Linked DNA regions of Homo sapiens: regions 1, 2 and 4 are each linked to region 3. The links come from fine-mapping of genetic effects on gene expression. A gene starts in region 3. Each other region holds a variant in brackets. All regions are shown on one strand. Distances are between the middles of the regions. Region 1 overlaps GLYR1 (glyoxylate reductase 1 homolog). Region 2 overlaps GLYR1 (glyoxylate reductase 1 homolog). Region 3 holds the start of ROGDI (rogdi atypical leucine zipper). Region 4 holds the start of LOC124903637 (a long non-coding RNA gene).

Region 1 (5,035 bases), 28 kb before region 3:
TGTGAATATCCATAGGAACCACAAATTTTAGAAGATGTTGCATTTCTTCAGCTCTGTAACATCCCTGACTCTCTGTGGATCAACAGATCATAAATCTGGTTCCCATTGTTGACAGGCAGCAGGCATTTTCCTGCATAGTAATGCTGCTATCATCTATCACATTTCCAGGTACCCTGATTCCCAGGGATCTGTGTGTGGCCATTTGTGCTGCCTGGTGAGAATGGGAAAGGGTCTCCAGATTTCTTTCTGCCCTGAGCAAGTGGCAGCGTATATGTGGTTGGGCATTGGAGGCTGATAGACGATTGTGGAAATAAATAATCTGCAACACAGTGCTTTCACTGGAGGAACTTGATTTGTGGTTGCTGCAGTGGTGGTGATGGTTGTTCTGCTTGACTTGTTTCAAGAAAATATACTTTAGACATAAGACTCTGAGATGGTTGATAGCATGTTTTGAAAGAAATGGCAAGGCCTATTGCAAAGTCCAGTTAAACCAAATGGATATTTACACCGTGCCATAGTGAGGTTGTTGATACTTTAGGGCATATGCTATATGGTTCACACCCTTTTTGTGTTTGTTTTCTGCTAGTGCCTGGATCAAAGTGGAACAGCTGAAGCCATATCATGCTCATAAAGAGGAAATGATAAAAATTAACAAGGGTAAACGATTCCAGCAAGCGGTAGATGCTGTCGAAGAGTTCCTCAGGAGAGCCAAAGGGAAAGACCAGGTGAGAGACACAATGTTCACTTTCTACCAATGCCAGACTGGTGATTTTTGCATAGCAACTAACAGATTAAATGTCACCCAAACGCAAACCTTTGTTCTTCTGAAATGCTACTGGAGAAAGCTACTTCAGTTCTAAGGTGTCAGCGTTTTGCTTATCAGTTTGAAACTCCATGCAGCTAACCTTTCTGGAGTAGGTTGTTGCTTTTAGGAAAATTGCTTGGACCCAGGAGAAATATCTCAGCATTTGAGTCTAGCACAGGCCATTTCTTCCTTTCATAGCACACAGATTAGGAGCATAGCCTCTGAAATACATATACTGCCTAGATTTAAATCCTTTCTTCTAGTTTTGGGACATAGGGAAAGTGACTTTTGATATATATATTTTTTAAATCTGCTTCTCCCAATGTCTGGGACGACAGCAGAATCTATTTCTAGGGTCATTGTGAGGAGACCACACAGAGTGCCTGTAGCAGCACATGGCACCTGTAAATGATGGTGGCGATGGCGGCAGCAGCTGTGGTGGTAGTTATCATTATTATTATTAAACTTTCAGACGTCATCCCACAATTCTTCTGATGACAAGAATCGACGTAATTCCAGTGAGGAGAGAAGTAGGCCAAACTCAGGTGATGAGAAGCGCAAACTTAGCCTGTCTGAAGGGAAGGTGAAGAAGAACATGGGAGAAGGAAAGAAGAGGGTGTCTTCAGGCTCTTCAGAGAGAGGCTCCAAATCCCCTCTGAAAAGAGCCCAAGAGCAAAGTCCCCGGAAGCGGGGTCGGCCCCCAAAGGATGAGAAGGTTTGTTTTCTCTCTGCAGCTTCCGGGATTAGTGATGTCCTTTTAGTACAAGGTAGAGTTAAGCTCTACAGTATGCTTATGTAGTATGCTTATCTATACTCTGCTCATGGAGTGGGAGCAGAATTCTGTGCTCAAGAATCCTGCAGGGCAGGTGCGGTGGCTCATGCTTTATCCCAGCAACTCAGGAGGCTGAGTCAGGAAGATGGCTTGAGCCTTGGAGCTCAAAGTTGCATTGAGCCGATTGCACCACTGCATTCTAGCCTGGGTGATGGAGTGAGACCCCGAATCTTATTTAAAAAATTAAAAAATAAAGAATCCCATAGACCAGGTGAGAGACACGGCCTGGATGCAGGTGTAAAGTAGGAGCGCGAGGCAGGAGAGCAGTCCACTTGAGCCGGTGCACAAGGGCTGGCCCTGGGAGGGGCTTAGCAAGAAAGAAGGGTAGGCATTCCAAAGATGGAGGGCACAGCCCGTGTGAGGCTCGGTGCTGGTGGAGATACTCTCGAACAGGGAGAGGATAGTGAGGAAAGCCGAGAAAAAGGAAGCTTGTCCCTGGATCGTGGAGGGCCTGAAGGTCTACTGAAGCAGCGTGGTACTAAAGCGTCTTGGAGTCAGTGGGGGCCCGGGAAGGTGACTGAGCCAGTGGCAGTGTGTGCCTCCCGTGTGTGCACCAGTAGTCACCGAGTGCAGAGGGGAAAGTCTCAGAGCCAATTAGGAGGTAAGTCTAGGCGTGCATTCATAAGGGGGTAATTGCAAATGTTGCAAGCAAAGAGGTGAGAGGCACTTCAGAGGAAGAGTTCTTAAGATTCCATAATTGGTTATATAGAGGATGAATGAGAAAAAGGAAAAGAGGATTTCCATCTTCATTCCTGGGAAAGTGGTCATCACTTTCTTAAAAGTAGAGGACTGGGGATGTAGAGGTGGCTTGTGGAGAAAGAGTACCAGTTCTGTTTGGAATGTCAAGAACTTGAGGCAAGGCCTAGACAGCCTGGGAGCTTGGTGTGACCTCAGGACTAGAAATGTAGATTTGGGAGGTGAATTTGTAAAAGGGTAGTTGAGTCCGGGCAGTGGAATGGGTTTGTTTCAGGAAGAGAGGGAGAAGAGGGAAGCGCGGAGGCCTGCATTGCCACAAGAATGCCGTGCTTGGGGCAG[G/T]AAGGAGCAGGAGGAGCTAGCAAGATGAGATAAAGCAGTGAGAGTGCCTCTCTCGCCTTCTTGCTGACAAGATTTGGGGCCGGTCTTACAAGGCCACAGAGAAGAATTTCAAAGTGAAGGGGACTGTGTCAGGAACGCGGTAGGATTGTCAACAGCAGGATAAAGAGAACAGAAGCCAGATGGCTGGCAGCAACAGTTGGGTGACGAGGCCATGATGGAACATTAGACCTTGGATCAAGGCTCAAAAATTCAGACACCAGCGAGCCCAGGCAGGTAATGGAAGCAACTGTAGCTGACTGGACCTAAGAAGCAGTGGCACGGGTGCCAGGCACCCCAGCTGACCTGCCTTGGTGCTCAGAGCAGCAGGGCTGGCCATGGTCAGGGAGTCTGGGGAGGTCATGCTCTGTCCACAGGGTTCTAGCCAGCTTCTGCCAAATTGTCTGTTTTTTCTCAAGAGAAGCTGGGAAGGCCAGTTGTGGTGTCTCATACCTGCAATCATAGCACTTTGGGAGGCTGAGGCAGGAAGATCACATGAGCCCAGGAGTTCAAGACCAGGCTGAGAAGCATAGTAAGAGCCTTTCCCTTAAAAAAAAAAAAAAAAAAAAGACAAAGTTGGCCAGGTGCAGTGGCTTATGCCTGTAATCCCAGCATTTTCGGAGGCTGAGGTGAGCAGATTGCTTGAGCTTAGGAGTTGAAGACTAGCTCTACAAAAACTAAAAAATTGGCCAGGCATGGTAGCTCACACCTGTAATCCTAGCACTTTGGGAGGCCAGTGCAGGAGGATCCCCTGAGCCCAGGAGTTCTAGACCAGCCTGGGCAACATAGGGAAACCCCATCTCTATTAAAATTTTTTTTGCTGGGTGCAGTGGCTCACACCTGTAATCCCAGCACTTTGGGAGGCCGAGGCAGGTGGTTCACCTCAGGTCGGGAGTTCGAGACCAGCCTGACCAACATGGAGAAACCCCGTCTCTACTAAAAATACAAAAATTACCCGAGTGTGGTGGCACGCTCCTGTAATTCCAACTACTCGGGAGGATGAGGCAGGAGAATCACGTGAACCCAGGAGGCAGAGGTTGCAGTGAGCCGAGATTGCGCCACTGCACTCCAGCCTGGGCGACAGAGTGAGACTCCGTCTCAAAGAAAAAAAAAAATTTAATATAAATGAATTAAAAATTAGCTGGGGTTGGTGGTGTGTGCCTGTAGTCCCCCCTACTCAGAAAGCTGAGATGAGAAGATCACTTGAACCCAGGAGGTGGAGGTTACAGTGAGCCAAGATTATGCCACTGCACTTTAGTCTGGGTGACACAGCGAGACCCTGTCTCAAAAAAAACAACAAAAAAAGAAACAAAAAGTACTAGTTGGGCATAGTGGTACACACCTGTAGTCCCACCTACTTGGGAAGCTGGGGTGGGAGGATCACTTGAGCCCAGGAGGTCAAGGCTGTAGTGACCTACAATTCCACCACTGCACTCCAGCCTGGGCAACAGTGTGAGACCCTATCTCCAAAAAAAGAGAGAAGCTGGAAATACAGGTTTTTATGTGAAATATCCCAATTTTAAATGTGCTTAGTTCAAAAATATGTCTTGGGGCCATAGAAACATCTCTGTGGGCTGCCAGTGTGAGGCCTCTGGTGAGAGACAGCCCTTCTCACTGTTAGATGACCTCAGGCTGAGGGAGTGGTGAGAGCAAGGGTGGCAGTGCTGTCCCTGCATACCGTCAGCCCAAGGTTTGGAAAAGCTGCCAGCTGCAGTGCAGAGAGAACTTTATAGGGAACATGATCTAAATTGACCCACAAAAAATGTAATGTGACTTCTGAGTTTATTTCCTGGAATCCAAAAGGAATCTGGGCTGTCAGATTTTATGCTATTTCCCAAATTGATATTGTCTGGTATGTGAAGCCATGCATCTCACCGGTGCCTGTGCCACCCTGGAAAGAAATACCTTCTCGTTGGATAAAGGGAAGTACAAAGGAGAGGTTATGACGAGGGCCTGGAGTTTGAATCACGTATATAGGACCTTAGCAAAGCACCTTTGCCCCAGTTTCCTTGTCTCATCGTTAGGAATTACAACAGTACGTGCCTCCTAGGTTCACTGTGTTAGTTAAATGAGTGACATGGACACAGCACTTAGAACAGTGCCTGTGTACAAGGCATTTGATCAGTTCTTTAGGTTTGTTTCGCAGACACTGGCCGTTTGTACAGTGAGAACCCCAGAGGCCACTGCCCAGGCTTACAGGAACTCGTCTCACGAGCTCCCAATAAACTGCAGACAGCCCTTGGGTCTGAATTATTAATCTGGGGAGTAGTGTAGCATACGTTGGAGATACTGCAGGTTCGATTCCAGATCATTGCAGGTCACACAAA
Region 2 (5,035 bases), 20 kb before region 3:
GTTGTGTCTACCACACCAGTGACTGACTCGGTGACCTTAAGCAAGGTTACTTAAGCTCTGTGTGCCTTAGTTTTCTATTCTGTAAAAGAAGATTATAATAGGGCTGGGTGCAGTGGCTCACGCCTGTAATCCCAGCACTTTGGGAGGCCGAGGCGGGCGGATCACGAGGTCAGGAGATCGAGACCATCCTGGCTAACATGGTGAAACCCCGTCTCTACTAAAAATACAAAAAATTAGCTGGGCATGGTGGCCGCGCGCCTGTGGTCCCAGCTACTCAGGAGGCTGAGGCAGGAGAATCGCTGGAACCCAGGAGACAGAGGTTGCAGTGAGCCAAGATTGTGCCACTGCACTGCAGCCTGGGCTACAGAGCAAGACTCCGTCTCAAAAAAAAAAAAAGAAGATGATAATAATTCTGTTTCATGAAGGGGCAAGAATTACATGAGAATGTATGTATAAAATAGGACTTATTGTGATGTCTAGCACATAGTAAGCCCTATGAAGGCATTTGTTCTCATTATAATCCACATCAGCATCATGTTCTATGGGCAAACATAAAAAGAGGTCAGGTGAAGCCACTCTGATAAGGTGACATTTCAGCAGAGTCCCAAAGCGAGCCTGAGCCAAGGAGATAACTGTCAGAAGAACGTTCCAAGTAGCACAAGGGTGCCAGGGCAGGCACATGCTTGGTGTGTTTGGTGCGGGGGGGAAAGCCAGCAGGGTGCTAACGAGCTAGAGAGCAGTGACGGGGGAAGAAATAGGACTTGAGGTTGGAGATTGGCGTGGGATGGGTGGGAGACGGCAGAACTTGCAAGACCCTCCCTGTAGACCATGCTCATGAAGCCCGTAGCTTTACTATGTGAGACTGGAAGGCAGTTTAAGGCAAAGAAGCATCATAATCTGATTGGCCCTTTTGGTAGCTGACTCTGGCTGCTGTGTAGAGACTAGACTGTGAGTGGAAGCAGGGAGATTTATTTTTGCAATTGTCCAGGTGGCCTGAGCTTAGGTATTAGTAGCAGGGATGGTGAGAAGAAGGGGTTGGGCAGATCGCCAACTGTAAAGCCCCATTCATTGTCAGTGGATTAGAGAAGAGAGGGGTCAAGAAGGGCTCTAAAGATATCGGCCTAGTAGAATGGAGCAGGCGTTTTCTAAGACTGAGAAAACCTCAGGAGTAGTTTAGGCAGGGGGTGTCAAGAGGGCCACTGTGGCTGGAAGGGAGTGACTGGGGAAAGGGAGTGCAAGGTAACATCAGAGCAGTCGAGAGGGACCAGACCAGTGTTAAAACTGGAAAGAGGACCCTTTGCCCAGGAAGAAGGTGAGCCGGGCCATCGATGAAGAGGAGCTTCTCATCTCACCATGTCCTCCTGTGTCCGTCTCAGGAGAACTCAGGCTCTTGGGCTCTGGCCACCCTGGAGTTTAATTCTGCCTTTGTCATGATAGCTGTAAAATGTGGGCAGATCTCATCAGCCCCATGTGGTTTTATTCGTTTCTTTGAAATATGGCGGATTCCTTCTGAAGCCACTACTGTTTCTTTTTTTTCTTTTTTTTTTTTTTTTTGAGATGGAGTCTTGCTCTGTCTCCAGGCTGGAGTGCGGTGGTGCAATCTCGGCTCACTGCAACTTCCACCTCCCCGGTTCAAGCGATTCTTCTGCCTCAACCTCTGGAGTAGCTGGGAGTACAGGTGCAGCTAATTTTTGTATTTTTTAGTAGAGACGGGGTTTCACCGTGTTGGCCAGGCTGGTCTCGATCTCTTGACCTCATGATCTGCCTGCCTCGGCCTCCCAAAGTGCTGGGATTACAGACATGAGCCACCACGCCCAGCCACCACAACTGTTTCTTAATGTTTGGTATTCACCATAAGGCATTTACTCTGAAACTTTGCAGACAGTACTGCAGATCGTACTTGGGCTTTCTAATTACCTCCATCTTTGTGAAATTTAGACATAAGTACACATTTTATTATTTCCAGAATTGAGAAGAAAGACTCACTTTGTGTTAATGGGAAGAACTGGCTTGTTTCTCCCGAGGGACGGTCATCAGAACAGTGGTTGGGGATTGGCTTGAACTTTCCCTTAGACTGTGGAGCTTGCAAGGGGTTTTGTTGGGGTTTGAATGTGATTTTAAAATGCCCTGCCCCTCCCTCTATAGGATCTCACCATCCCGGAGTCTAGTACCGTGAAGGGGATGATGGCCGGACCGATGGCCGCGTTTAAATGGCAGCCAACCGCAAGCGAGGTAAGGAGCTCTCCTGCAGGCAGGACAAGCTGTGGCTTAGGGCGAGGTTCCTGTGTGATCCTTTTTTTTTTTTTTTTTGTCCCTTTCTTGTGTGTGAGGCTTAATTTATTATTACAAAACAGTACAGAAGTCTATGAAATAAAAAATTAAAAATTTCCCTCTAGGGTGAGCACTGTGAGGCTCGAGGTGACGGATTTCAGTCCTTTGGGATGCCCACTTAGCATTCATTTACATGATTATAGACCTATGTCTAGTTTTTTTTATTTTGGGCAGGGTTCTTTTTCACAAAAGTGGGATGATTCCACAAGTTTTTTTCCCCTAATATTTTATAAACACCCTCTTATTGTCCATAAATACAACTTTTATGTTTAGTTTTATTATCCTTGGTGCGGCTACACCTGTTGCTGGGCATAATTATGGAAAGCCCATGAAGGTCCACTGTCGTGGCTACTCTGTTTCTGTTAATATGCTCAGTAAGATGAGATCGCCAAGGGCTTGGTACCAGACACAAGTAGGCCAAAACCCTGAAATTCCAGAATAGATGTGACTTAGTTTGCTGGGTTATCTGCTGTGCCTGATGAGTACCGAATTTATAAAGCACAGGTATGCTTGTTAATATTTTCCCACAGGCTCATTGGAATAATTTGTGTACCAACCTAGCAGAATCATCTATTCTTTTACACTTTAAAGCCAGTTTTCCTCTAGCTGGAATGGGGCTTGTTTTTATAAAAAGGCTTAGGCCAAAATGGGAAAAGAGTTTCCAGACAATTGTGAAAAAGAGACCAGAATCCAGAGGTGTTGCAGCCAGAGGAGAGTCCAGTTACCAGGGAGAAGGAAGTGACCTTTGGTGG[C/G]AGATAACTGGTTTTATTTCACTGTTTTCTGGTTTCAGCCTGTTAAAGATGCAGATCCTCATTTCCATCATTTCCTGCTAAGCCAAACAGAGAAGGTGAGTTGCCTTTGAGGCTCTTGGCCCTTGGTCAGGGGCTGGCCAAGGAGTGCTCCTCCACTGGGTCCTGGCCTGGCCATCTGAAAAGTTAGGCTCTGCCGGTGTATTGCCCAGAGCAACTAGCCCAGAAGCCCCCATATGGGCCCGCTAATGAGCCAAGCATTGTTAAGATTAAAAGTAAATCCAGGCCGGGCGCGGTGGCTCACACCTGTCATCCCAGTACTTTGGGAGGCTGAGGCAGGTGGATCATGAGGTTAGGGATTCAAGACCAGTCTGACCAACATGGTGAAACCTCATCTCTACTAAAAATAGAAAAATTAGCTGGGCATGGTGGCGCGTGCCTGTAATCCCAGCTACTCAGGAGGCTGAGGCAGGAGAATTGCTTGAACCCGGGAGGCAGAGGTTGCAGTGAGCCAAGATTGCGTCGCTGCACTCCAGACTGGGCAACAGCGTAAGACTCTGTCTCAAAAAAGATAAATAAACCCAAAGGCCGGGCATGGTGGCTCATGCCTATAATCCCAGCACTTTGGGAGGCCAAGGCGGGTGGATCACCTGAGGTCAGGAGTTCAAGACCAGCCTGGCCAACATGGTGAAACCCCATCTCTACTGAAAATACAAAAATTAGCTGGGCATGGTGGTGCATTCCTGTAATCCCAGCTACTTGGGAGTCTGAGGCAGTAGAATCGCTTGAACCCAGGAGGTAAAGGTTGCAGCAAGCCGAGATGGTGCCACTGCACTCCAGCCTGGGCGACAGAGCGAGACTCTATCTCAGAAGAGCATTTAAAACTCAGCCAGCTGTGTAGTTGAGACTGTCACAGTGACCTTTAGAGTTTAGGGCAGAAACCAAACATCGTAAGCTGTCAGCACCCCATGAAATTGCATGGCAGACACATCTTCAAGCTCACTCCAAGAGGTAGTCTCCAAGTCCTGCGGATGCAGAGGGAGGTCCTCCCAAGGTCTGCAAGGTTATGGGGTGGCCTGAGCCGTGCTAGGATCTCATGAGAGTTTGTGGCTTTGGAGTTGGATAGATGTGGGTTCCAAGCTTATGACTCTTATTCTCAACACCATGGTCAGCAAAAAGACCTGGTAGAATTGCATGGGGACTTGAATGAGGTAATGTGTATGAACTTTCTAGTGTAAAATTTGGAGTTCACTAAAGTATAAAACAAATAGTTGATGTTAACTTCCCACTTTGGGTCTAACCTTTGAGGGGATTATTATGAAGACTGGTTAAGCCTGCAGTAGCACAAGTAGTCTCTTTCCTCCTCCTTCATTAGCCAGCTGTCTGTTACCAGGCAATCACGAAGAAGTTGAAAATATGTGAAGAGGTATGTAGGCTCCATGCCTCCCCATTTTAATTTTCACCTGGGGCCTTAAACTGCAGGCAGACTGACTTGATGATGTGTGCTTCCTGTCCGTAGGAAACTGGCTCCACCTCCATCCAGGCAGCTGACAGCACAGCCGTGAATGGCAGCATCACACCCACAGACAAAAAGTAGGACCTTTGATGAAAAGGCCTCCAGTGGCTCTGGTTCTGCTGAGGGTGGGGAGAAGGTGACCCCAGGGGGGTTCTTTAAGGGTTGTGTCCCAGCCATTGCTGGCATTGAATGGAAAAGGTGGGGGGATGTTGTAACTCTTATCGATAAAGACAGGAGTCAAAAGCTGTGTAAATCTGTGGTCGGGTCTCCCTTGGGCATAAGCTGAGGGATTTTTTTGGCTCCAGAACTCAAGAGCAAGGAGCACTTGGCTCAGTGGTTCTCAGACTTTCCTGTGCCTGACAGTCACCTGGAAGGTGGCTTCTCAGTCAATATGTCCGGGTGGGGCCCAAGAATTTGTATTTTTAACCAGTTCCCAGGT
Region 3 (5,035 bases):
GTCTTGATCTCCTGACCTCGTGATTCACCCACCTTGGCCTCCTAAAGTGCTGGGATTACAGGCATGAGCCACTGCGCCTGGCCCTAATTTTTGTATTTTTAGTAGAGATGAGGTTTCACCTTTTTGGCCTGGCTGGTCTCGAACTCCTGACTTCAGGTGATCCACCCACCTCGGCCTTACAGGCATGAGCCGCAGTGCCCGGCCAATGCTGAATGTTTTATATCCCATAGTGTATTTCATTCTCACAAGATCCCCCGGGTACTGTTCCTTCTCCCAGAGCAAGAAGCACAGTGGCTGAGGTCCAGAGAAACGGAGGTGCTTCATGCAAGGTCAACACAGGATTCCTAACCGGACAGCCTGGGCTCCAGCACTGCCTGCTGGCCACATCCACCACTGCCTCCAGGAATCAGGTCTAGGTCTTGAAGGCAGCTCTGGGGCCAGAGACTGAGCCATCTCTTTTTTTTCCAGGTGTACAAAAGAGCCAAGGCGCTGGACCAGTCTGACAACGATATGTCCGCCGTGTACCGAGCCTACATACACTAAGCTGTCGACACCCCGCCCTCACCCCTCCAATCCCCCCTCTGACCCCCTCTTCCTCACATGGGGTCGGGGGCCTGGGAGTTCATTCTGGACCAGCCCACCTATCTCCATTTCCTTTTATACAGACTTTGAGACTTGCCATCAGCACAGCACACAGCAGCACCCTTCCCCTGAGGCCGGTGGGGAGGGGACAAGTGTCAGCAGGATTGGCGTGTGGGAAAGCTCTTGAGCTGGGCACTGGCCCCCCGGACGAGGTGGCTGTGTGTTCACACACACACACACACACACACACACACACACACACAGGCTCTCGCCCCAGGATAGAAGCTGCCCAGAAACTGCTGCCTGGCTTTTTTTCTTCCGAGCTTGTCTTATCTCAAACCCCTTCCAGTCAAGGAACTAGAATCAGCAACGAGAGTTGGAAGCCTTCCCACAGCTTCCCCCAGAGCGAAGAGGCTGTAGTCATGTCCCCATCCCCCACTGGATTCCCTACAAGGAGAGGCCTTGGGCCCAGATGAGCCAGTACAGACTCCAGACAGAGGGGCCCTTGGGGCCCTCCAACCTCAGGTGATGAGCTGAGAAAGATGTTCACGTCTAAGCGTCCAGTGTGCACCCAGCGCTCCATAGACGCCTTTGTGAACTGAAAAGAGACTGGCAGAGTCCCGAGAAGATGGGGCCCTGGCTTTCCAGGGAGTGCAGCAAGCAGCCGGCCTGCAGGTGAGCATGGAGGCCCGGCCCTCACCGCCTCGAAGCCATGCCCCAGATGCCACTGCCACAGCGGGCGCTCGCTCCTCCCTAGGCTGTTTTAGTATTTGGATTTGCATTCCATCCCTTGGGAGGGAGTCCTCAGGGCCACTAGTGATGAGCCAAGAGGAGTGGGGGTTGGGGGCGCTCCTTTCTGTTTCCGTTAGGCCACAGACTCTTCACCTGGCTCTGAAGAGCCACTCTTACCTCGGTCCCCTCCCAGTGGTCCCACCTTCTCCACCCTGCCCTGCCAAGTCCCCTGCATGCCCACCGCTCTCCATCCTCCCTCCTCTCCCTCTTCCTCCCGTGGAGACAGTATTTCTTTCTGTCTGTCCCTTTGGCCCAGACCCAGCCTGACCAACGATGAGCATTTCTTAGGCTCAGCTCTTGATACGGAAACGAGTGTCTTCACTCCAGCCAGCATCATGGTCTTCGGTGCTTCCCGGGCCCGGGGTCTGTCGGGAGGGAAGAGAACTGGGCCTGACCTACCTGAACTGACTGGCCCTCCGAGGTGGGTCTGGGACATCCTAGAGGCCCTACATTTGTCCTTGGATAGGGGACCGGGGGGGGCTTGGAATGTTGCAAAAAAAAAAGTTACCCAAGGGATGTCAGTTTTTTATCCCTCTGCATGGGTTGGATTTTCCAAAATCATAATTTGCAGAAGGAAGGCCAGCATTTACGATGCAATATGTAATTATATATAGGGTGGCCACACTAGGGCGGGGTCCTTCCCCCCTCACAGCTTTGGCCCCTTTCAGAGATTAGAAACTGGGTTAGAGGATTGCAGAAGACGAGTGGGGGGAGGGCAGGGAAGATGCCTGTCGGGTTTTTAGCACAGTTCATTTCACTGGGATTTTGAAGCATTTCTGTCTGAACACAAAGCCTGTTCTAGTCCTGGCGGAACACACTGGGGGTGGGGGCGGGGGAAGATGCGGTAATGAAACCGGTTAGTCAATTTTGTCTTAATATTGTTGACAATTCTGTAAAGTTCCTTTTTATGAATATTTCTGTTTAAGCTATTTCACCTTTCTTTTGAAATCCTTCCCTTTTAAGGAGAAAATGTGACACTTGTGAAAAAGCTTGTAAGAAAGCCCCTCCCTTTTTTCTTTAAACCTTTAAATGACAAATCTAGGTAATTAAGGTTGTGAATTTTTATTTTTGCTTTGTTTTTAATGAACATTTGTCTTTCAGAATAGGATTGTGTGATAATGTTTAAATGGCAAAAACAAAACATGATTTTGTGCAATTAACAAAGCTACTGCAAGAAAAATAAAACACTTCTTGGTAACACAGCTGTGCCGCAGGAGTCCTGCTTCCCTCGTCCTCGGCGAGATGGGTGGGAGGAGAAGGCAGCGGCGGGGCCGGGGTGGGTTTTCGGGACCTCCGCGTCCGGGGTGAGACGGACTTGGGAGTGGCGGCGAGGTCCGCGGCAGGGTTGGAACCACGACCAATGGAGCCAAGCGGGCCAATAGGGAGGAGGAGCGGGGACAGACTGTCCTGCCGGCCAATGAGTGAGCGCGAGTGGAGCAGAGCGCCCTATCATATCCTGGGGGCGCCCCGGGAGCTCCGCCCCCAAGCGGGCGCCCCAGGCTGGTGCCGGCCGCGTCCCTGGCCAGCCGGAGCAAGCCTGACTCGTGCAGCCGCCGGCCGCGTCCCTGGCCAGGCGGAGCGAGCCTCACTCCCGCAGCCGCCAGTCTGGTTCCAGGGCTCCCGCAGGTTTCGGGGGCCGAGGCGGACCGACAGGCGCCAGCCAATCGCGAGCACGGAGCCGGCCTGGGGGCGGGGTGGTACCCGCTCCGCCAATCGGGTGGGGGCGGAGCCAGACGCCGGGGGCGGACGGGAGGACCGGAGGACCGAGGACAGAAAGATTGGTGGACAGGAGCAGCGGCCGGTGGGGAGGGCGCTCGGCGGCGGCCTGCGGCCATGGCCACCGTGATGGCAGCGACGGCGGCGGAGCGGGCGGTGCTGGTAAGGCGCGCGGGCCAGCGGGCGGGCCGGCGGGGCGGCGGGGCCGGGCGCGACCGCCGGGTCTGTCCCGCAGGAGGAGGAGTTCCGCTGGCTGCTGCACGACGAGGTGCACGCTGTGTTGAAGCAGCTGCAGGACATCCTCAAGGTAACGACCCGCGCCCTGCCCCGCCGGGCGTGGCGGCCCTCCCTCCTCATTTCCCTGGCTCCACCTGGGGCCGCGCGGCTGCGTCCTGAGCGCCTACAGTGTGCGGCTGCCGCGGCTTTCAGGCAGGGCCCCGCCTCCGCGAACTCGAGCCGACCTCATTATATAAGTACCTGTGTGCGGGCAGGGGCGGGTCCCGACGAGGGTGCTAGCAAGGGCCTGAGTCCCGCCCGGCCTCGGGTCGGGGAAGGCCGCCTTGGGAGCAGCGGCATCCAATCTGGGAGCCGAAGAATTCTGCCTCTGCCTGGCAGTGTGACTTCAGCCAAGTCACTGAACCTCCCTGGGCCTCCCTTTTCTCATTGGCAAAAGGGAGATAACAGTACCCGCTTCGCGAGGCTGGGGTGTAGATAAATGAGCCAGGCAGCTCACAGAAGTAACCGGCGTAGTGCTTGCTGTGGCCCAGGACCGCGGGTTACCATAACTACTGCCTTGTTCCCTGACTCTGCCCCTTGCCCCTTTCCCCCTCAACCAAGCTGGGAGGCTGCCCCTGTCTGTTTTGTATTCCCCGAGGCGGGCACACAGGAGGTGTTCAGGGAATGTGGTATAAGCAGAGATCGGGCTCACGGTTAGGTGCCCTGGGGGCTTGGGCAGGGTCTTCCCACCCCAGCTGAACCCAGGTGAGGCCAGGCCACGTTGTTCCTTCCCCCCGCTGACTTGGAGGGAGGGGGGCTTCTGGAAGGAGCACTGGGCCGGGCCTGAGTGGGCGCTACCAGCTCCCCTCCTTCCCTCTGTTCCACAGGAGGCCTCTCTGCGCTTCACTCTGCCGGGCTCCGGCACTGAGGGGCCCGCCAAGCAAGAGAACTTCATCCTAGGCAGCTGTGGGTGAGCCTGGGCTAGGCGGAAACCGGGGAAATGGGTACCTTGGGGGGTAGGAGGCATGGCCATAGCCCTGTCCTGCAGACCAGCTGGTTGTGCGATGGGACAGGAGGGGCAGCCCGCCGGGAGGGAGGGCTGGGTGGTGGGGGGGTGACCACAGGCACCGCTCTGACGCCACATGTTACAGCACAGACCAGGTGAAGGGTGTGCTGACTCTGCAGGGGGATGCCCTCAGCCAGGCGGTGAGTCCCCCGGCCCTGTCCCCTCCCATCCTGCCAATGGGGAAGAGCATGGGAGCTCCCACTTTCTCTCTGTACAAGCCCTGCGACTCTGGGCGGGACCCTTGATCTCTCTGGCCTCAGTTTTCTCCTTTGGAAAATGACAGCAACCCTCACACCTTCTCCCGGGATCGGTGTGCAGATTCAGTAAGAGGTGCAGGAGAGGGGTTCTTTGCACACGGCCTGGCCTGGCGTCCGGACCAGTGAAACATGGGCATTGGTGGATTAGGCTGGCCACACATCACAGTTGAATCAGCCAATGCCTGAACTCCAGTCTGCACCCGACTCTGTGCCAGGCACCAAGGCGTGGGGGGAGGCCCCCCTCCTGGGCTCCATCTGTTGCCCTTTGTAGACACTAGATGCACCCCGTTCGCACAGAGCCTCACAGAGGCTGCCTTTCCTCTTCCCCTTCCCCTTTCTTCACCTCTTTCCATTTCACTTCTTTGTGGCTCTTCTTGGGCCTGGTTTCCTGTTTCCTGACCTCCCT
Region 4 (5,035 bases), 91 kb before region 3:
GAGAGTTCTTAAGAAGCTGCGGGTAATTCTTAGGATTGAGGTGTCTGGGGAAAGCTGGATGTGGGCGACGCCGTGTCACTCCTCATTCCCTGTCTGAGCCGCACAGTGGGGGCTTCAGGTCCTGTTTATGGCTGCAGCCCAGGTGCTCAGCCCAGGGGATAGCTGACAGTGAACCAAGAGTTGATAGACTGAAGAATGGGCAAGAGAATTTTCGAGAACAAAAAGGGGAGGCTATTATCAAAACCTAGAAAGAAGCTATAGTATTAAGTCTGGATGTTCCTAGTACAGAGAGAGGAACTGAATCAAAGACACCTCAAGACTTACTGATACATCCAAGAAAACATGTCACAGAGGTGGCATCTCATGGATGGGTGGGAAGGGACCTGGCTTTTCCCAGTGAGGCCCCTAAGGAGCCAGCTCAGGGAGGGTGGGGCTGTCTCCACGCAGAGGAGCCTCAGGCTCAGCACAGGGTCCCATGCTGGACTCCAGGTGAACCGGAGGCCCAGCCCCGCCTGAGGGATGAGCTTGAAGCCTCCGACAGAAGCCCAGGTGCTTCTAGTGGTTTCCTGGCTGTAACAGAGCCACCTTCTCCCCTAGTTTCACGAAGACGTGAAGGACGCTCAGGAGCTGCTGCGCAAGGTGGACTCGGACCTGAACCAGAAGTATGGCCCTGACTTCAAGGACCGGTACCAGATTGAGCTGCTGCTGCGGGAGCTGGATGTGAGCGATGGCCCAGGACCCCTGCTGGCCCGGGGGGCGGGGGACCCCTCTACACCATGCCTGCCCTCAGCCCTGTACAGGCCCCTCCACAGCACCCCACCTGCTGAATCCAGCCCCTGCTCTGCGTCCTCCCACCAGGGGGAAGGCTGTTGGTCTCACCTGGGCCCCTGACCCCGTTCTCTCCAGGACCAGGAGAAGGTGCTGGACAAGTATGAGGACGTGGTGCAGGGGCTGCAGAAGCGAGGCCAGCAGGTGGTGCCCCTCAAGTACCGCCGGGAGACTCCGCTCAAGCCCATCCCCGTGGAGGCACTCTGTGACTTTGAGGGGGAGCAGGTGCGTGGGGCCAGCTCCTCTGTTCACATCACTACAAAGTTTTTGGGGTAACATGGTTGGATCCCGGGCCTCAGGCGCCGTTCTCAGGAGCCTGTGCCTGTCTCCGTGGTTGGTGTCACTCTGCCAACCCTTCCCCTGGTGCAGGCCAACTGGCACCCCTATGCCGCCCCCACCTCGGCTGCCCTGGCCTTGTGTTCCACCAGCTTAGCAACCCCAGTCCCTCCTCAGAAGTCCCAGGCCAGGTTCTCATTGGCTCACTGTGAGTCACGTGTCCATCCTACACCAATCACTGTGGCCAGGGAATGCCAGGGTCCACCCTATACCAATGACTGTGGCTGGCGAATGCCAGTCATTGGCCAGGTCCAAGTCACATGTCCATCTGGAGCTTGGGAATGGAGAAGGAGAGACCACAGGGACTGGGAATTGGGAGGGAAGGTTCCCCAAAGGGAAATGGAGGTGGGTTGCTGGGCCGGCAGCCTCAACACATGTGCTTCTCCTGCATGCCCCTCCCCACTCTACGGGGAGGGTCCAAGTGATGAGCCGGGGCTCCCCAGGTCCAAGAGTCGGGGGCTGAGATGGCAACCGGGCTCCCAGGCCCTCAGGCCCTGCCGGGATCCTGACTGTCCAGCCTGCCCCCGCCAGGGCCTGATCTCGCGGGGCTACAGCTACACCCTGCAGAAGAACAACGGGGAGAGCTGGGAGCTCATGGACAGCGCTGGGAACAAGCTGATTGCTCCGGCCGTGTGTTTTGTGATCCCCCCCACAGACCCTGAGGCCCTGGCTCTGGCTGACAGGTACAAGGGCAAAGGCGGGAGTCTGCATGGACCAGTCCCACCCCCAGGGCTTCTCAGGCCCCATTCATAGCCCCGGGGATTTGGACTCAGCCTGTGGGGAGCGCGGGGTCGCTGACACTCTCCATCTGCACCCCCTTGGAAGTTCATGCAGGAGAGGGGCAGATTGTGGGCCAGCTGACTTGCTAAACATGAATGTCTAGCTCTGGGCTTCGTCCTGGCCCCCTCACGAGTTTCTAAGCAGTTTCTAAGGGCCCCTGACTCCCGCACGCACTGCTCCCTGTACTTGCAGACCCCAGCCCCTTGGCTGGAGGACTCAGCTGGGATAAGGGCTGCCTCCTCTTTGCTCCCAGGCACCTTCTTCCACTGCACGCACCGCTTTTTATTAAGT[G/A]ACTAGCGTATGCGTCAGTCTCATTGGGCCTGGGCTCCTTGAATTTCCTCTCTCCAGGGCCTAGTTAAGTACCTGGTACAAAGTAGGTGCCCAGGAACTCCTTGCTGAATGAGTGGATCATTCAAGGAATGCCTTCATTTATTAAGTATTTATTGAGCACCTACTGTGTATGCTCCCTCAGAAGTAACATCTTGGTGGTGATTATTGGACAGACAATTTTAGGTAGTGAGACTTCCTACGAAAGAGGAGGGAAGGAGGGAGAAGAGCTCTGAGCCCAGGAGCACAGAAAGGCCAGTGCCACAGTGAGCACTTGCTGTCCGCATCTAAGGAGCTGTCAGGCTCCTCTGGGGTGTCTGCCCAGCCAGAGTCCGCAGTCCCGCCTCTGTGGGTGCAGGGGGTGGTGGGCTGCCCAGGTTCCCAGCTCATTTCTGTCCTCACAGCCTGGGCAGCCAGTACCGGAGCGTGCGGCAGAAGGCAGCTGGGAGCAAACGCACGCTGCAGCAGCGGTATGAGGTGCTGAAGACCGAGAATCCCGGAGGTGGGTGCCAGGGCCACTCGCCTGAGGCTCTGGGGGTACCGGGGAGGAGGGGCTGGACCAGGGTCTGTGCTGTGGATGAGACGGCGGGGGGCTGGCTGCCTAGGTCCATCCCTGGGCCTCACACCCCTGGCCCGTTGTCACACCTGCCTGTGTCCTCCCTCCCTCCACAGATGCCTCTGACCTACAGGGGCGGCAGCTGCTGGCTGGCTTGGACAAGGTGGCCAGCGACCTGGACCGGCAGGAGAAGGCCATCACAGGGATCCTGCGGCCACCACTGGAGCAAGGCCGGGCTGTGCAGGACAGTGCCGAGCGGGCCAAGGACCTCAAGGTACCTGCGGGTCAGGAGCACAGGTGGGGCCGGGGGAGCCCTGCACTGGCCCCCTGGGGCCCCTATTTGAGGTCTTTTCCCCATGGAGTCTTGGGATATTCACTGCAGCTGTCTGTCAGGGACAGCCTGCTGCATGTAAAAGGGTCCCAAGTCATGGAGGTGGCAGGGCTGCTGTCATTACCTCCCCAGGAGAAAGAGCTGGCAGGACTTGCATTGTTCCTGCACGGCTTGTCGATCTGACGCCTGGCATGGCACATGGGCTGTGGAATTCCGCAGGACTGGGTCACCGGCTGGCTTGACTGCAAACACGTTAGCGTTTGTATTTATAAACTCCAGGCCTCAGTGTCTTCAGTAGGATGGGTTGGCCCTGCTCACAGGGCAGTGGCGAGGACAGGGTGAGCTGATGCCAGGGGGGACGTGGAGGGGCCACCTCCCCCCACCTCCTTTCCTATACAAAGTCTCCCACATCCTCAAGGCAGCCCTCTGAGGCAGTGAGTAGCACTCCAATTTTACAGAAGAGGATCTGGGATTGGAGAAGTGCCATAGCCCCTGATGGGGCCTCAGAGTGAGAGCCAAGTCAGGGCGAGAGGATGCCGGTCTCGGGTGTAGCCTGACCCCACAAGTCCCTTCCTAAGCTGCTGGGAGTCGTCACACCCCCACCCGTGACTGGGTGGAGTCGTAGTACTCACCTCCCGGGGTTGCCGCAAAGATTAAACAGAAGCGTCCGCGTGCAGTGCTGAGGACAGCACAGGCCCGGCAGCTGCCTGGGTGCTTCTGGTGTCACTAGTCCATTCCACCTCAGCGGTTCCCTGGGATGCTCGTGAAAAATACAGCCCTCAGGCTGGGGTCCAGATGCCGGGTCAGAGCCCCAGAATGTGCCAGGCCTCTCCAGCTGCTTCCACTGTGCCTGATGTGGGAATCTGTGCTCACCCTGGGCACATCCTCAGGGGAAGGGGCTGCCTGGCTGTGTCCAAAACTGAGGGGCCCTGGTTCCCACAGAACATCACCAACGAGCTACTGCGGATTGAACCTGAGAAGACGCGGAGCACGGCTGAGGGCGAAGCCTTCATCCAGGCCCTCCCAGGCAGTGGCACCACACCCCTGCTGAGGACCCGGGTGGAGGACACCAACCGGAAATACGAGCACCTCCTGCAGCTGCTGGACTTGGCCCAGGAGAAGTGGGTGGCAGACAGGCAGCATGGAGGTTGGGGTGGGGTCAGGGGGCCAGGTGGGCATCCCCCGACGCCTGATTGGTGCTCTCAGGGTTGATGTGGCCAACCGCCTGGAGAAGAGCCTGCAGCAGAGCTGGGAGTTGCTGGCCACACACGAGAACCATCTGAATCAGGATGACACAGTGCCTGAGAGCAGCCGTGTCCTGGACAGCAAGGGGCAGGAGCTGGCGGTGAGTCTAGGGCCCAAGTCCTGGGAGTCCTTCTCTGAGCAGGTGAGAGCATCTGGCACATCCACCCGCCCGTCTGGATAGATGAGGACACCAGCATCCAGTCTCCCCAGGTTTGGAATGCCCAAATTGGGAACTGCAAATGGAGGCCCACAGCACAAATCCAAGCTATTCACGGGATCTGTGTGACTTACGGGATTTCGGGTGCCAGCATTTTAAGATCAAATATCTGCAATAGCCAGTGTAGTGGCACATGCCTGTAACACCAGCCATTCAGGAGGCTGGGGCAGGATTGCTTGAGCCTTGGAGTTTAAGTCCAGCCGCCTGGACAACGTTGCAAGACCCTATCTCTTAAAAAAAAAAAAAAAAAAAAAAAAGCATAAAGCACATAACAATCCATGTTCCCAGTATCTCTTGCTGAGCAGAGCTGGCATCCTGGGCTGCAGCTCAGAGGGCAAGTCAGTGGGCAGAGGAGCAGCTGCCTTCTCGGCCTGCTTACCTCGCAGTTGCCACGGGCCCCCTTCCCACACTGCCT

Evidence for each region. PIP is the estimated chance that this variant, and not a neighbour inherited with it, causes the effect. A credible set is the group of variants that fine-mapping cannot tell apart.
Region 1: its variant is the best candidate, but not a certain one, in a credible set for the expression of ROGDI in transverse colon (GTEx, PIP 0.87).
Region 2: its variant is the best candidate, but not a certain one, in a credible set for the expression of ROGDI in nucleus accumbens (GTEx, PIP 0.62).
Region 4: its variant is the best candidate, but not a certain one, in a credible set for the expression of ROGDI in whole blood (INTERVAL, PIP 0.60).

Annotation. Positions count from the first base shown.
Region 1 is chr16:4,828,464-4,833,498 of GRCh38, reverse strand. It overlaps GLYR1 (glyoxylate reductase 1 homolog), which reads left to right. Exons shown (of 16, transcript NM_032569.4): 4 at 587-725; 5 at 1,278-1,520. Among named protein-coding and RNA genes, the nearest start is that of GLYR1, 16 kb to the left of the region's middle. The variant G/T (reference allele first, on the strand shown) is at 2,673.
Region 2 is chr16:4,821,018-4,826,052 of GRCh38, reverse strand. It overlaps GLYR1 (glyoxylate reductase 1 homolog), which reads left to right. Exons shown (of 16, transcript NM_032569.4): 6 at 2,146-2,232; 7 at 3,122-3,178; 8 at 4,456-4,506; 9 at 4,600-4,673. Among named protein-coding and RNA genes, the nearest start is that of ROGDI, 21 kb to the right of the region's middle. The variant C/G (reference allele first, on the strand shown) is at 3,084.
Region 3 is chr16:4,800,744-4,805,778 of GRCh38, reverse strand. ROGDI (rogdi atypical leucine zipper) reads left to right here and starts at 3,146. Exons shown (of 11, transcript NM_024589.3): 1 at 3,146-3,252; 2 at 3,326-3,397; 3 at 4,194-4,276; 4 at 4,458-4,512. The coding sequence starts at 3,208. It overlaps GLYR1 (glyoxylate reductase 1 homolog), which reads left to right. Exons shown (of 16, transcript NM_032569.4): 16 at 469-2,576. The coding sequence ends at 543. RefSeq lists enhancers at 797-1,091, 3,138-3,638 and silencers at 2,639-2,850, 2,743-3,532, 3,573-3,632.
Region 4 is chr16:4,891,279-4,896,313 of GRCh38, reverse strand. It overlaps PPL (periplakin), which reads left to right. Exons shown (of 22, transcript NM_002705.5): 10 at 598-720; 11 at 907-1,053; 12 at 1,696-1,847; 13 at 2,676-2,773; 14 at 2,944-3,101; 15 at 4,101-4,279; 16 at 4,365-4,503. It overlaps LOC124903637 (a long non-coding RNA gene), which reads right to left and starts at 598. Exons shown (of 3, transcript XR_007064965.1): 1 at 1-598. RefSeq lists an enhancer at 211-1,056. The variant G/A (reference allele first, on the strand shown) is at 2,236.